Linked DNA regions of Homo sapiens. The protein of the gene in region 1 purifies or fractionates together with the protein of each later gene. This does not show direct contact. Each region holds a gene or a part of one and is shown on either strand. Other genes may lie near its edges.

The links.
Region 2: the proteins of CDNF (region 1) and NFS1 purify together in Homo sapiens (affinity purification with mass spectrometry; 3 studies listed by BioGRID and IntAct, with this or other methods). This does not show direct contact.

The regions. Positions count from the first base shown.
Region 1 is NC_000010.11:14,835,013-14,842,538, forward strand, and holds the start of CDNF (cerebral dopamine neurotrophic factor precursor), read right to left. Parts: upstream 3,026-7,526; 5' UTR 2,935-3,025; coding exon 2,820-2,934; intron 1-2,819. Other genes in the region: HSPA14 (heat shock 70 kDa protein 14), read left to right, coding at 3,391-3,447, 4,893-4,973, 5,063-5,145; MSANTD7 (zinc finger and SCAN domain containing 29), read left to right, coding at 7,273-7,526. UniProt on the Homo sapiens protein: Trophic factor for dopamine neurons. Prevents the 6-hydroxydopamine (6-OHDA)-induced degeneration of dopaminergic neurons.
Region 2 is NC_000020.11:35,675,332-35,682,356, forward strand, and holds part of NFS1 (cysteine desulfurase isoform a precursor), read right to left. Parts: intron 6,651-7,025; coding exon 6,557-6,650; intron 5,541-6,556; coding exon 5,406-5,540; intron 1-5,405.

The sequences.
Region 1 (7,526 bases):
CTAGAATCTAGGCTAGGTGACCAGGTAGTTGTCCCATGCTGTCACCGTAAGCATGACAGTAACAGGTTTAGGGGAGTGAGAAGGGAAGGAGATGATGACTTTGGTTTTTTGACTGTGTTGATGTTGATGTACATCATATCTAAGAGGGCATGTTCACTAGTCAATTGGATGCAAGGTCTGAGACTCTAGAAAGGTCAGTGGATATAAGGTTAGAGATTTATTAGACTGGAGGTAGGTTGGTTTGGGTTGCCAAGAAGAGTGTGTAGACTGAGAAGAGAGAAGAGAAGAGAGCAGAACCCTGGAAAATTCTAAGCCATGGCTAGAGGATCAGAAGCCCACAAAGACACACTGGACAAGTGGGCATAGAGACAGGAAGGAGAAAAGCAGTATCATGACCATGAAGAGAAGGCAGTCTCTGAAAGGGAAAGATGTCAATGGTGTCACACACCACAAAGAAGTCAAGGTAAGAAAGGAAACTCATTTTCTGGACTTACATGAAGAGAATAACCTCACCATAAATGCCCTAACAAATTAGTAGCTTCTTAAGTTTTCTGGGATGTCTTTATTGCTAAAATAACCTCAGATAGCCATACTTCTTTTATTTATATTGTGCTTTTATGTTTATTAAAGATAGTTTTATAAGTGAATCTATAATTATTTTAAAATAAAAAGTTATTTAAAATAGTCCCATAATATAATCCTTTAAAAGAGATTTGGAAATATTTATGTTTTTCCAGTAAACCTCACATTACCTAATAATAGGACTCACAGACTTGAATATCTACAGGGGCCAGGCAAGGAAAAAGAAGAGTTAAGCAATTTGAATCGGGGGCAGAGTAGGGGCGGCAAACTACTCAAAACCCAAGTCCTTTCTAAAAAGAGCAGCCAATAGCCAATTCTACTATACAGCCATAAGGCCAATCTTGCCAGGTCATCTGGTTTTTTGAGAAAAGCCAGAAATATGAATTTTTACATAAAATTTCCCAATTTTAAAATGTACCCAGTGAATTTAATTTTTTTCAAAATATTTTGTAAATGTAACGAAACATATCAATAGGTCCGAGACGGCTCAGGAACCATTCAGTTTTTTTGCCTTCGCTCTAGAGTATGTATAATATGGCATTTTAATCTTATACATTGAGAAGAAATTAAGTTGTAAATAAGAAAGGAGGCTGAGGAGGGAGGATCACTCATAAGCAGTAATAGAGCTGGATGCAGAATCTGGTTCTTTTAGTTACCAAACTGTTATGTCCTTCCTCTGCGATTACACAAGCTTCTTTACCTAACAAATGAAATATATAGACAGGTTAGTCAGACATGCAATAATCACAGCATGCTGTAATAAATTTAGGACAGACAGCATAAGCTTCCCATTTAATTAATCCAGATGCTGTCTCTCTTGAAACATTTATAAGTGGGAGCCCCAGATGAGTCATCAAATCAATTGTCTTTGCCTCACAAAGTCTGTTTTAAAAGTATAGGACACAATTATAGCATGGTTTGGAGCAAAATTATAACTTAGCTAAACAAATATCTTTATATCGAGTAATAACATGTAGATATTTTAAATTTCTGGAGAAAAGTTTAATTATTGCAGAGCTCATAGAAAGCCAGGCTCCAATTATTAACACTTTAAGGACTGGGCGCTGTGGCTCACGCCTGTAATCCCAGCACTTTGGGAGGCTGAGGCGGGCCGATCACCTGAGGCCAGGAGTTCAAGACCAGTCTGGCCAACATGGTGAAACTGCATCTCTATTAAAAATATAAAAATTAGTCAGGCGTGGTGGTGGTGCCTTTAGTACCAGCTACTTGGGAGGCTGAGGCAGGAGAATCGCTGGAACCCGATGATGGAGGCTGCAGTGAGCCAAGATTGTGCCACTGTACTCCGGCCTGGGCAACACAGTGAGACTGTCTCAAAACAAAAACAAAAACAAAAAACAAAACAACAAAACAAACAAAAACACAACTTTAGTACGACTATACCCATCCATTCACTCAACATATATGATGAACCTACAATTTCCTGTTCACTAGGGATATATTTTCCAGCTGAGGGCATATACATTTAAACTAATTATTTTCAGTAAAACATGGAGTGAGCGCTACAGGAGTCCAGAAGGAAGGGGCTAGCATAGCCACTTACCTTCTTTGCCTTTGCTAACAGATCTCTAAAGTGAAGTACGCTGATTTTGCAAAAACCAAAGTCTCAGAGCTAGGGGACTTGGTGGGATACAGACTCACGTATTCTGACTGCGAGTTCACAGCTGAGATACCGTGAACAAAAAGGAACCACTCTTTTGTATTCCTCTCTTTCCCAAGGAGTCAGTGTACTCCTTTGCAAAGCAATTTTCACCTACAGAGTCCTAACAAATATTAGCTATGTCCTCTGATTTAAGCTACTCAACTCAATGCCATGTTTTGTTTTCCTTTGGGGAGTCACCAACTAGCTTGGACTTGAAAGACGTCTTCTGTGCAAGGGGAGGCAAATCTTGCTGGTTGGAAGCAGCAGAATCAATCTGGCGCCAGTATCATCTGAATCTAGCATTCTTTGCACAAACTCTAATCCAAATACAAACCCACCAGCTTTTACTGCTGAAGTTTAATATTCACAGCAAAACCACAACGTGGCCTCACGTTACCACCAGGCCCGGCTTGAGCTTTTTACTCGAGCTGGGCTTGGGCGATCTAAAACGAGGGACAGGGCCTGCATTTCCTGGGCGGAATGTTATTTATAGCCAGGGCCAGGAGAAGCCAAAGCCGACAGCTGCTGCGCCGCAGCGCGGGGCCGCCGCCATGCAAGCAGTTGTCACACCGCTCACCTTCACAGTCGGCCCCTGGCCGCCCCCCGGCCTCCTGGCCCTGCGTCAGCACCGGGTGAGAGACCAAAAGCCCGGCGCAAAAGGCCACCACAGCAACTGGGCTCGCGCACCACATGCTGGGCCAGCAGCTTCAATCGCCTCCGCCACCCGCGCCCACCGCCCACCAAGCTGCCAAAGCGAGCTGAGCAGAATTCGAGGTTGGAAAGAATCTGCCAGTAGTTGCCAGGACAAATGACGCAACTGAACACAGAGTTTCCATTGGCTCTCAAGGAAGGGATAGGAAGGGGGCGGAGTGTAGGAGCCTTTTCCCGTCCCTCCCCGGTTGCGCGTGCGCACTGTGCAGTTTCCGCGGAGCGCAGAGACGCGCTGAAGCTACTCGCGGACTGCGCGTGAAGAAAGGCGGAACCTTCACGCTGATTGGCGGCGACGCGGGAGGCTGTAGCGGCCGACCGGACGCAGGGGGCTGGCGGGAACGTGAAGCTCCGCGGTGCCTGATGGGGCCGTTGGGCGGCCGGTAGCTGTTGCTGTTGGGGGACCCCCTCATTCCTGCCGCTGCCGTCCCTGCTGCCTCATGGCGGCCATCGGAGTTCACCTGGGCTGCACCTCAGCCTGTGTGGCCGTCTATAAGGTGAGGGGCTGCGGAGCTGGGCTAGGGCTTCATGACGGCCACCCGGTTTTCTGGCGCTGGGTCATCCACAGGCTTGAGAGCGGCGTGTCGCCGGCCTAGGGATGTCGTGGAGTGGCGTTGCCGCGAGGACACTCCGGAGCGAAGGGCCGGGCAGGCCCGGCCTCGCGCCTGGCGATTCCTCCGGAAAGTCGTCTACTCCGCGGCGGAGGCTCGCGGCGATGTAGACGCGCGGGGTCCCAGGGCGTCATGGCGGCGGGATGCCCGGAGGGGTCCCAGGGACGACGTAGCTGCAGGGTGCCCGGGGGGGTCCCGGAGACAGCGGGGCCGCTGGGTGTCCCGGGGGGTCCCGGGGACGGCGGGGCTGCGAGCATTTTGGGGGAGGTCACGGGGACGTCCTGGCCTCTGGATGCCGGAAGGGGTCTCGCTGACGTCAGGGCCTCAGGATTCCCGCGGGTGGGAGGTCCTGGGAAAGTTGTGGCCGCGAGGTACTTGGAGGCGGTGGTCTCTGGGACAGCAGGGCCGCAGAACGCGCTGAGCTGGGCCCGAACGTCTAGGTCCCGGAGGGGCGGGGAGGCTGCAGTCGAGCTGGGGCTGATGGTCCCGCAAAGCTGCCTGGCTGTGAAGCCAGTTGATGGTGCGTGGTCTACAGAGGTGGCCTTTCTGGAAGTGAGAGCCTGACAGGACTTGTGGCCTTTCTCTCATCAGTGGGGAGGCAGAAGAAACGATAATCATGAACTCCGTTGCCACTAGTCCCGCGTTTAAATGTCAAATGACTTGTTAGGAAAAGCCAAAGGGAATAATACTACTTCATTTGTAGAAATGGGAAGAAAGGGGCCCAGCGCGGTGGCTTACGCCTGTAATCCCAGCACTTTGGGAAGCCGAGGCAGGCGGATCACGTGAGGTTAGGAGTTCTAGACCAGCCTGGCTAACATGGTGAAACCCCGCCTCTACTAAAAATACTAAAAATTAGCCGGGAACGCCTGTAATCCCAGCTGCTCAGGAGGCTGAGGCATGAGAATGGCTTGAACCCGGGAGGCGGAAGTTGCAGTGAGCCGAGATCTGGCACTGCAGTCTGCACTCCAGCCTGGGCCACGGAGCAAGACTCCGTGTCCAAAAAAAAAAAAAAAAGAAATGGTAATGGTAAGAAGGAAGAGAGGTAGGAAAGGTAACGTAATAATAGCCTTCGTTTTGTGTGTAGAAAGGTTGTTATTACTTTTGATTCAATTGTTGACTTTGCAGAGCAGACTGAAAACATGAGGCAGTTCTTCATGGAATTATAGGCTTTCTATGAAAACGAGGAAATTAAATGGTAATTAAATTTGCAAGTTTAAAATATTGAGATAGCAGTTTTTCTTTCCACACAGATGGCAAAGTAACACTGGTGCACAAATGCACACGTCTGAATACGTCTAATGAGACTATGTATTTCGTGTTTTTTTCTCTAGGATGGCCGGGCTGGTGTGGTTGCAAATGATGCCGGTGACCGAGTTACTCCAGCTGTTGTTGCTTACTCAGAAAATGAAGAGGTACTAGTCCCCCCATTTTTGTACTTCTGAAATAATTTAAAATTACATACATTGTAATATATATATATATATATTATTTTTTTTTTCAGATTGTTGGATTGGCAGCAAAACAAAGTAGAATAAGAAATATTTCAAATACAGTAATGAAAGTAAAGCAGATCCTGGGCAGAAGGTATGGAATCAAATGATACTTTTAAATATGGTAATAGGAACATGTTCATAAATTCTAAGCATAATGTGAAAAGAAATTAGAAACAGCATAGTTTGTTTCTTCATTGCTTTTTATGACTGAGTCATTACAGAGAGTACCCCCAGTAGGCAGTGTCTTTTGATTCTTAGTGTTGGATCTTCTCTGATATGGGATTCACTCAGATGTTAGTTTCTTGCTGACAGGTCAATTTGGTAATTTGCGTCAGAGGTGGTAATTTGGATTGTTCACATTTTTAGATTTTTTTTAACTGAGAGGATTTCAAAGATTTTGTGGGAATTTGAAGACTTATTGACAATGTGGTTGAATTTTGCTGAATCTATTACAATTTTTCGTAATTTATGTAGACACTATTGATTTTCTTCCTCAGGATCTTTTGTGACACTTTCTGGGAACGAACTTTTCCACTTGACTTACAAATTTAATCATTAGAGTAACAGCTAAATTAACGTCTTATGTAAGAATCAGATTAATCATCTGTTGTAAGTTTAATTAGAAGATTAAAACAGGCTTGCTTCCCCAGACTTCTGTCTCCTCAAATTATAGATTGCTATAATAATTAGGGGTTTTCATTTTCACTACTGTAGTAATACTTGATAGAGTGTTTTTAAATTTTCAAAGTGCTTTCACATCTATTATTTTATTTAATTCTCTCAACATCCTTGTAAAATTGGCAACGCAAATACTATCATTCCCCATTTATAGATGAGAAAATCAAGGTACAAAGAAATTGTGGCATTATCCTAGGGGGTAAACTGGGTAAGACTGCAGATCAGGTCTCCTCACCCTCGGCCCCAGGTTCTTTTCTTTCAACTTTGTTTAGTGAGAATTTAAGTAAAAATGTCCTGGTGTTGATTTAGAATTGGATATTATAGATTAAATTTATGCAGGTATCTCTTACCTGTTTATCTTATTTTCTGTCTCTTACCTGTGTTCAATTAAATTGAACTTGATATTAATCTTTTTCCTCAGGATACTTATGCACTAAGCCAAAAACTATAGTTGTTTGGAGAGAATTCAATATTCAGTGACAATAAATACATCCCCATATCCTTTTACCTATTGATAAAACTTAGTACCGAGCATATTAAATATAAGTTGGTGTCAAATATTTTCAGATCATAAAGTCTAGAAAAAAGAATCGTAGATGGGTCTTCAAGCCCAAATCACTGAGCAGCCAACAATATGATTTTTTTAATTAAACTTTTTATTTAGAGAGAATTGCAGTTTCCCATGCTGCTGTGTAAGAAATAATACAGAGACATCAAACACATTGCTGGATTCACCACCTCTCCCCGTGGTTATATCTTGCAAAATTATAGTACAGTGTCACAACCAAGATGCTCACATCGATATAGTCCAGATACAGAACATTTCCATAGATCTCTCCCCTGGTAGCCAACAATATGTTACTGTTTGTTTTATGCTGCTGTTTGAGGGCACATGGTTAGAGTAATTATGTGGCTTTCTTCTGCCATATTGTGCAAAAAAAAAATTTGTATTAGCAGAGCAACTTAAACTCACTTTTCTGGCCCACACTGACAGTCAGATGGGTAACACAGAGCCACAGCGTGCTGTGATTAGTAAAGACTGAGCATCTTTCAGATTGCTATACCGTGGTCATGCTTGGACTCCTTTAGCGTTAGCTGCCTCATGGTCCAGGTGATTTTCCCTCCCAGCCCATCTACTCACCAGACAAGGGTGATTTTTACAGATCCATTGTTGTACCAACTCTCAGCCATGAAAGCATTTGGCCTTTTTGTTACCAAGCCATTAGGTTCTTGGTGCCGTGTCTACCCTGGGTGAACTCCCAAAGTTGGGCTATCTCAGTCTTGGCCTCATGCCTGTTTATGACCTACTCACAGGTAGCACCACTTAACTTGCTGCCAAAATTATCCTTACACCCTTCCTGTAACTCTCATTCCCCTGTGGCCTTCCAGCCAGAAATGCGGTCCTTGGACCTGGCTTCTCAGCAATTATCCCTGAGAGGGAAGATCCTGGAGATATCCTGAGAGCACACAGAGCTTCCCCACACCTTCAGACTTGCACCTTGCTGTCCAGAAGCTGCCTAGCCCTCCTTTCCAACCCACAATGGCCAGTGCCAATAGCAGTGCGGGCATCCGGTGGTCCAGACAGGAGACACGAACTCTTCTCTCCATACTAGGCGAGGCAGAGTATATTCAGCGCCTCCAGACTGTGCATCACAATGCAGATGTCTATCAGGCTGTGTCTAAGCGAATGCAGCAGGAGGGCTTCCGCCGCACCGAACGTCAGTGCCGCTCCAAGTTTAAAGTTCTGAAGGCATTATATTTAAAGGCCTATGTTGCCCATGCCACAAGTATGGG
Region 2 (7,025 bases), on another chromosome or scaffold:
GTTAAGGAAAAGAAGAAACAGCAGTAAAAGCATAGTATTTAGTAAAATATTTAACATCTGGAAGATAAATGCCAGAAGGAGTAATGATCAAAATGGTTTAAAGTAGCTCCCTATGCTATATGAAATGCCATCATACATTACAGTATTATTCATAATAGCAAAAATACTGGGAACAACTTAGATGTCCATCATCAGGGTAATGGTCAAATAGATTATGGCATGTCCATACAATGAAATACCAAGCAGGTGTATAAAAGAATGAGGGGGCCGGGTGTGGTGGTTCACGCCTATAATCCCAACTGTGGGAGGTCAAGGCGGGCGGATCACCTGAGATCAGAAGTTAGAAACCAGCCTGGTCAACATGGTGAAACCCTCTCTCTACTAAAAATACAAAGATTAGCCAAGCGTGGTAGCAGGCACATGTAATCCCAGCTACTCAGGAGGCTGAGACATGAGATGAACCCAGGTGGTAGAGGTTGCAGTGAGCTGAGATCAAGCCACTGCACTCCAGCCTGAGTGATGGAGCAAGACTCTGTCTCCCAAAAAAAAAAAAAAAAAAAAGAAGAAGCTTGTTCTGAACTGACACCATAAAATCTCCAAGATACATTGTTACAAAACTGGTGAAATCCAAAAAAAAGTCTGTACTTTAGCTTGAAAAAACAAAGATGTATTGGCCGGGCGCAGTGGCTCACGCCTGTAATACCAGCACTTTGGGAGGCTGAGGTGGGTGGATCACCTGAGTTCGGGAGTTTGAGACCAGCCTGACCAACATGGAGAAACCCCTTCTCCACTAAAAATACAAAATTAGCCAGGCATGGTGGCACATGCCTGTAATCCCAGCTACTAGGGAGGCTGAGGCAGAAGAATTGCTTGAACTCGGGAAGCAGAGGTTGCAGTGAGCTGAGATGGCACCATTGCACTCCAGCCTGGGCAACAAGAGCAAAACTCCGTCTAAAAAAAAAAAATGTATTATGGGCTGGACACGGTGGCTCACACCTGTAATCCCAGTGCTTTGGGCAGCCGAGGCGGACAGATCATGAAATCAGGAGTTCGAGACCAGCCTGACCAACATGGTGAAACCCCGTAATTATTAAAAATACAAAAATTAGCTGGGCGTGGTGGCACGCACCTGTAATCCCAGCTACTCAGGAGGCTGAGGCAGGAGAATCGCCTGAACTTGGGAGCCACAGGTTGCAGTGAGCCAAGATTGTGCCACTGCACTCCAGCCTAGTGACAGAGCAAGACTCTGTCTAAAAAAAAAAAGATGTACCATTAGGTGAAAAATGAAAGATTGAAACAGTGAGTACAGTATGCTATCATCTGGATAAAAAAGAAAGCTGGAGGAGAAGTATATATTTGTTTGTAAACACATAGGATAATTGTAGAAAAACCCAAGAAATTGCCTCCCAATAACCAGAGAAAATCAGAAAAAAAAAAAAAAAAAAAAAAAAAAACCAAGAAAGAAATTACCTCCCCAGAAGGGAACTGCATAGCTGGAGGTCAGAGGTGAGAGGCAGACTTTTGTCTGTGCCTTTTTTTTCCCTTTTTTTTTGAGACAAGAGTCTTGCTCTGTTGCCCAGACTGGAGTGCAATGGCACGGTCTCAGCTCACCGCAACCTCCACCTTCCCGGTTAAAGTGATTCACCTGCCTCAGCCTCCTGATTAGCTGGGATTACAGGCACCCGCCACCACGCATGGCTAATTTTTGTATTTTTAGTACAGACGGGGTTTCACCATGTTGGACAGGCTGGTCTCAAATTCCTGGCCTCATGATCTGCCCGCCTCGGCCTCCCAAAGTGCTGCAATTACAGGCGTGTGCCACTGCACCTGGCTGTCTGTGCACTTTTTTGTAGCTTTTGAATTTTGAATCACATGAATATTACTTTTTCAAAATAAAATTTAAATTTAAAAACAATTTGGTGGAGCACGGTGGCTCATGACTACAATCCCAGCATTCTGGGAGGCCAAGGAAGGAGAATCACTTGAGACCAGAAGTTTGGGACCAGCCTGAGAAACACAGTGAGACCCCGTGTCTACAAAAAAAAAAATTAAAACTTAGCTGGGCATGGTGGCATGCACTTATAGTCCCAGCTACTCTGGAGGCTAAGGCAGGAGGATCACTTGAGCCTAGGAGGTCGAGGCTGCAGTGAGCTATGATCGTGCCACTCACTCCACTCCAGGCTGGGCAACAGACTGAGACCTTGACTCAAAAAAACAAAAAACTTAAAAATGCGTATAACCTGTGACTAAACAAGCCGAATTACAGAAATTTTGTGCCAAAATATGAGCATGAGCATGCAAAGTTATTCACCAAGTAATCAGGGCTTCTGAATAGAATTGGCACTTGACAGTTCTCCCACACAGAAAAACTGTTTATGCTGAGAATGGAGGTACTATAAAAATTAAGGCAGTGGTTTCCAAATCGATTATGAAGGACACCAGATTTTAAATAATAAGCTGGGTGCAGTGGGTCATGCCTGTAATCCCAGCACTTTGGGAGACTGAGGCGGGAGGGTTGCTTGAGGTCAGGAATTCAAGCCTGAGTAACATAGTGAAACCTCTATCTCTACAAAAACTGTTTTAAAAATTAGCCAGGCATTGGGCCGGGCACGGGATTACGCCTGTAATTCCGGCACTTTGGGAGGCCAAGGGTGGGTGGATCACCTGAGGTCAGGAGTTCGAGACCAGCCTGGCCAACATAGTGAAACCCTGTCTCTACTAAAAATACAAAAATTAGGCCGGGTGTGGTGGCTCACACCTGTATTCCCAGCACCTTGGGAGGCCGAGGCGGGCAGATCATGAGGTCAGGAGATCAAAACCATCCTGGCTAACACAGTGAAACCCCGTCTCTACAAAAATACAAAAAAAAAAAAATTAGCCGGGCGTGGTGGCAAGCGCCTGTAGTCCCAGCTGCTTGGGACGCTGAGGCAGGAGAATGTCGTGAACCCTGGAGGCGGAGCTTGCAGTGAGCCAAGATCACGCCACTGTACTCCAGGCTGGGTGACAGAGCGAGACTCCGTCTCAAAAAATAAAATAAAATACAAAAATTAGCCAGGCGTGGTGGCAGGCACCTGTAATCCCAGCTACTTGGGAGGCTGAGGCAGGAGAATCGCTTGAACCCGGGAGGCGGAGGTTGCAGTGAGCCGAGATCTCACCATTGCACTCCAGCCTGGGGGACAAGAGCGAGACTTTGTCTCAAAAAAAAAAAAAAAAAAAATTAGCCAGGCATGGCCGGGCACAGTGGGCCTATAATCCCAGCTACTCAGGAGGATGAGAGAGGAGAATCCCTTCAACCTGGGAGGCAGAGGTTGCAGCGAGCCGAGATCACACCACTGCACTCCAGCCTGGGCGTCAGAGTAAGACTTTGTCTCAAAAAAAAAAATTAGGCGTGTTGGTGCACACCTGTAGTGCTAGTTACTGGTGAGGCTGGGGTAGGAGGGTTGCTTGAGCCCAGGAGATTGAAGCTGTGGCAAGGTAGGATAGCACCACTGCACTCCAGCCTGAGCAACAGAGTGAGACCTTGTCCCTATAAAACAAATGAATAAAATAATGTATTAAACTGTATTTATTAAGAATTATTTCATTTCTCCATTTAAAAAAATTCAAGAATCTTATACTATCTGAGTCTAAACAGTTCCCAAATTCAAACAGCAAGTGCTCAAATACCATGTCTGAACAGTGAAGAATGCCACATTATCTAAATCTATTTAGATTCTGGACTTGGAAAGCAGGAGGTTGGATAATGAGGGACACCTGTACACATGTAAGTGTTGATCAGAGCTTCTGATCAATGAGTTCATTGGTTTTTTGTTTTTAAAATTTTTGTGAGTACACAGGAGGTATATATATTATGGAGTTCATGAGATTTTTTTTGTTTTTGAGAGGGAGTCTCGCCTGTCGCCCAGGCAGTGGTGTGATCTCGGCTCACTGCAACCTCTGGCTCCTGGGTTCAAACGATTCTCCTGCCTCAGTCTCCTGAGTAGCTGGGATTAAAGGCACATGCCACCACACCCGGCTAATTTTTTTATTTTTAGTAGAGACGGGGGTTCACCATGTTGATCAGGCTGGTCTTGAACTCCTGACCTCGTGATCCGCCCGCCTTGGCTTCCCAAAGTGCTGGGATTACAGGTGTAAGCCACCGTGCCCAGCCCATGAGATGTTTTAATACAGGCATATAATGTGAAATAGGCACATGATGAAGAATGGGGTATCCAGCCTGAGTTCATTGGTTTTTATCAAAAAGACTTATCTACAATAAAAGCCAATAAAAGCAACATTTTATTAAAAGACAGAACGCTTACTGGGCTTTTTGAAATAATAACTCACAAAAAACACTCTACAACCTCTGGGAACCCTTAGAAGACGCCATCTTCCATAATTCCAGAAGCTATTACACCTACTTCCACAAGGTATACACCCAGATAACACACCCTGCAGACATAAAAAGGGTACCAGCACAGACATCAACCCAAAAAAGGCCCTCACTTGAGAAAGAGGAGTTATATTTTATATTTATATTTTATGGTTACCTTCACAAAACAGAGGACAACAGTCTATTCCCAAGGGTTAAGGGAAAGAGGCATAACTCAAGCTTGAACACATTCCAATAGGACCATAGGGAACAAACATGTATCCTTGAGAGACTAACAGGATAACAGACTATGAAGTCTTCTAAGAATAAACACAAAGATAGCTGGGCTTGGTGGCTCACATCTATAATCCCAGCACTTTGGGAGGCCGAGACGGGCGGATCACGAGGTCAGGAGATCAAGACCATCCTGGCTAACATGGTGAAACCCCGTCTCTACTAAAAATACAAAAAAATTAGCCGGGCGTAGTGGCAGGCGCCTGTAGTCCCAGCTACTCGGCAGGCTGAGGCAGAAGAATGGCGTGAACCAGGGAGGTGGAGCTTGCAGTGAACCGAGATGGCGCCACTGCACTCCAGCCTGGGCGACTGAGCGAGACTCCGTCTCAAGAAAAAAAAAAAGAACACAAAGAGATGTCAAATCCCATGCAATCTTCCCCTGAGCTATAGCAAGACACTGGGAATGAGGGACTCAAATAGTTGCTCTGCACATCATAGTGGGGAAAACAAGATAGCTGGGCCTATCTAGATAAATTTGATTTGACAAAACCCATTTTTCCTCAACCAAATTAAGATCTACATGCTTGCTAAGGATTTGTTAAAGAGAGCAAGAAAGAATGGCCTGATGTATAGTAACTGCTAAGGTCTACAAACAAGCAAGTGTTTCTGGCTATTGCTAAATGACATTTGCATTCTACAAGGGACTCTGAATGTACAACTTCCTCTGAGAGCAACAGTAGTCCCAAATGACTGTGACAAACATCTATCAAAGGTCTTGCTGGAAGGTACAGAGAGAAGGAACTCTAGAAGGGGCTGGTACCTTTGGGACCGTAGATTTTGTGACCACTAATGCTCATGAGATCAATTTTCATGTCATTGACATCAAGTGGGATTTTTCCAACAGCCTGGGCTGCATCAGTATGGAAATATACCTTTCTGGAACTGCAAATCCGCCCTGAGGAAACAGAGGGGAAGACCCACAGCACAATGTTGGAAAGTCATCTGTCAGAGTCCCACAGTGCACTGTGAATTATCTCCAATAGTAAATGACCTGTAAATATTAAACTCCTCCCCTCCCTCCTTCTACCCCTTCTCCTTCCTCTTTTCCTTCCCTCCTCCCCCTTCCCCCTTCCTCCCTCTCTGTGTCTCAGTAGCTTCCCTTCTTTAGAATAAAAAAGATGAAGGGCAAAGCACCAGATCGAAACACTCGTGATATTCTTATGCATACAATTCTCACCACCTCATTAACACCAGCCTTTCAAAATGTCAGATTACTTTCTAGATCCCTTTTGATTAAAAAACAAACAAAACAAAATAAAAAAAAAAAAACAAGATTAACAGATCTTTGTGCTAATGTGCCTAAAGAAATTACAGGGCGATCTCTATGTGGGGAGAATAGAGATGTTCTAAAAGGAAAAAGAGTAGCAGGCTTTTTTGTTTTGTGGTTGGTTTTGGCAGCAACTGCAATAAAATTAAAAACCATAAAAGGTGCTAGACCTGGCCGGGAGCAGTGGCTCACGCCTGTAATCCCAGCACTTTGGGAGGCCAAGGCAGACGGATCACCTGAGGTTAGGAGTTCAAGACCAGCCTGGCCAACATGGCAAAACCTCATCTCTACTAAAAATACAAAAATTAGCCAGGCATAGTGGTACACACCTGTAGTCCCAGCTACTCAAGAGGCTGAGGCGGTAGGATCATTTGAACCCAGAGTGAGGAGGTTGCAGGGAGCTGAGATCACACCACTGCACTCCAGCCTAGGTGACAGAGTGATACTCTGTCTCAATGAAAAAAAAAATGGTAATAGACCTGGATTCAAATACTGCCTATGACACTTCCAATGTCCTTGAACAAAGTACTTAGGCTTTCCCTTGATTTCCTAACTACACTCCATAGAGTATTACAGCTCTCAGTATACTACCTCATACAGAGCCCCATGGTGGGCAGGGATCAGGGATAAGCCATGATACTCACCTATTTCTGCAATAGGCTGCTTCACTCCAATCTCATTGTTCACAGTCATGACTGACACCAGGCTAGTATCTGGCTGGATAGCAGCCTCTAGTTCCTAGGGATATGCAGGAGTAAGGTGACTAGATAGTACAAACAAAGTCCTCCTAAATCAGAATATAGGCAAACTTAGTCATGAAAAGGAGTCTTATACTACATACCTATCTGAATAGTTAACTAAAAACAGTGACAACACAAAATGTTGGTGAGGATGCACAGACTCTGAATGGTTCATACATTGTTAGTGGGAATGTAAATATCACAGCCACTTTGGAAAACAGTTTGACAGTTTCTGTTTCTCATCAAACTAAACATGAAATTACCATAGAACCCAGTAACTGTACACTTGGGCATTTATCCCAGAGAAATGAAAATTAAATTCACAAAACATCTTACACAAATGTTCACAATAACTTTATTCGTAATACCAAAA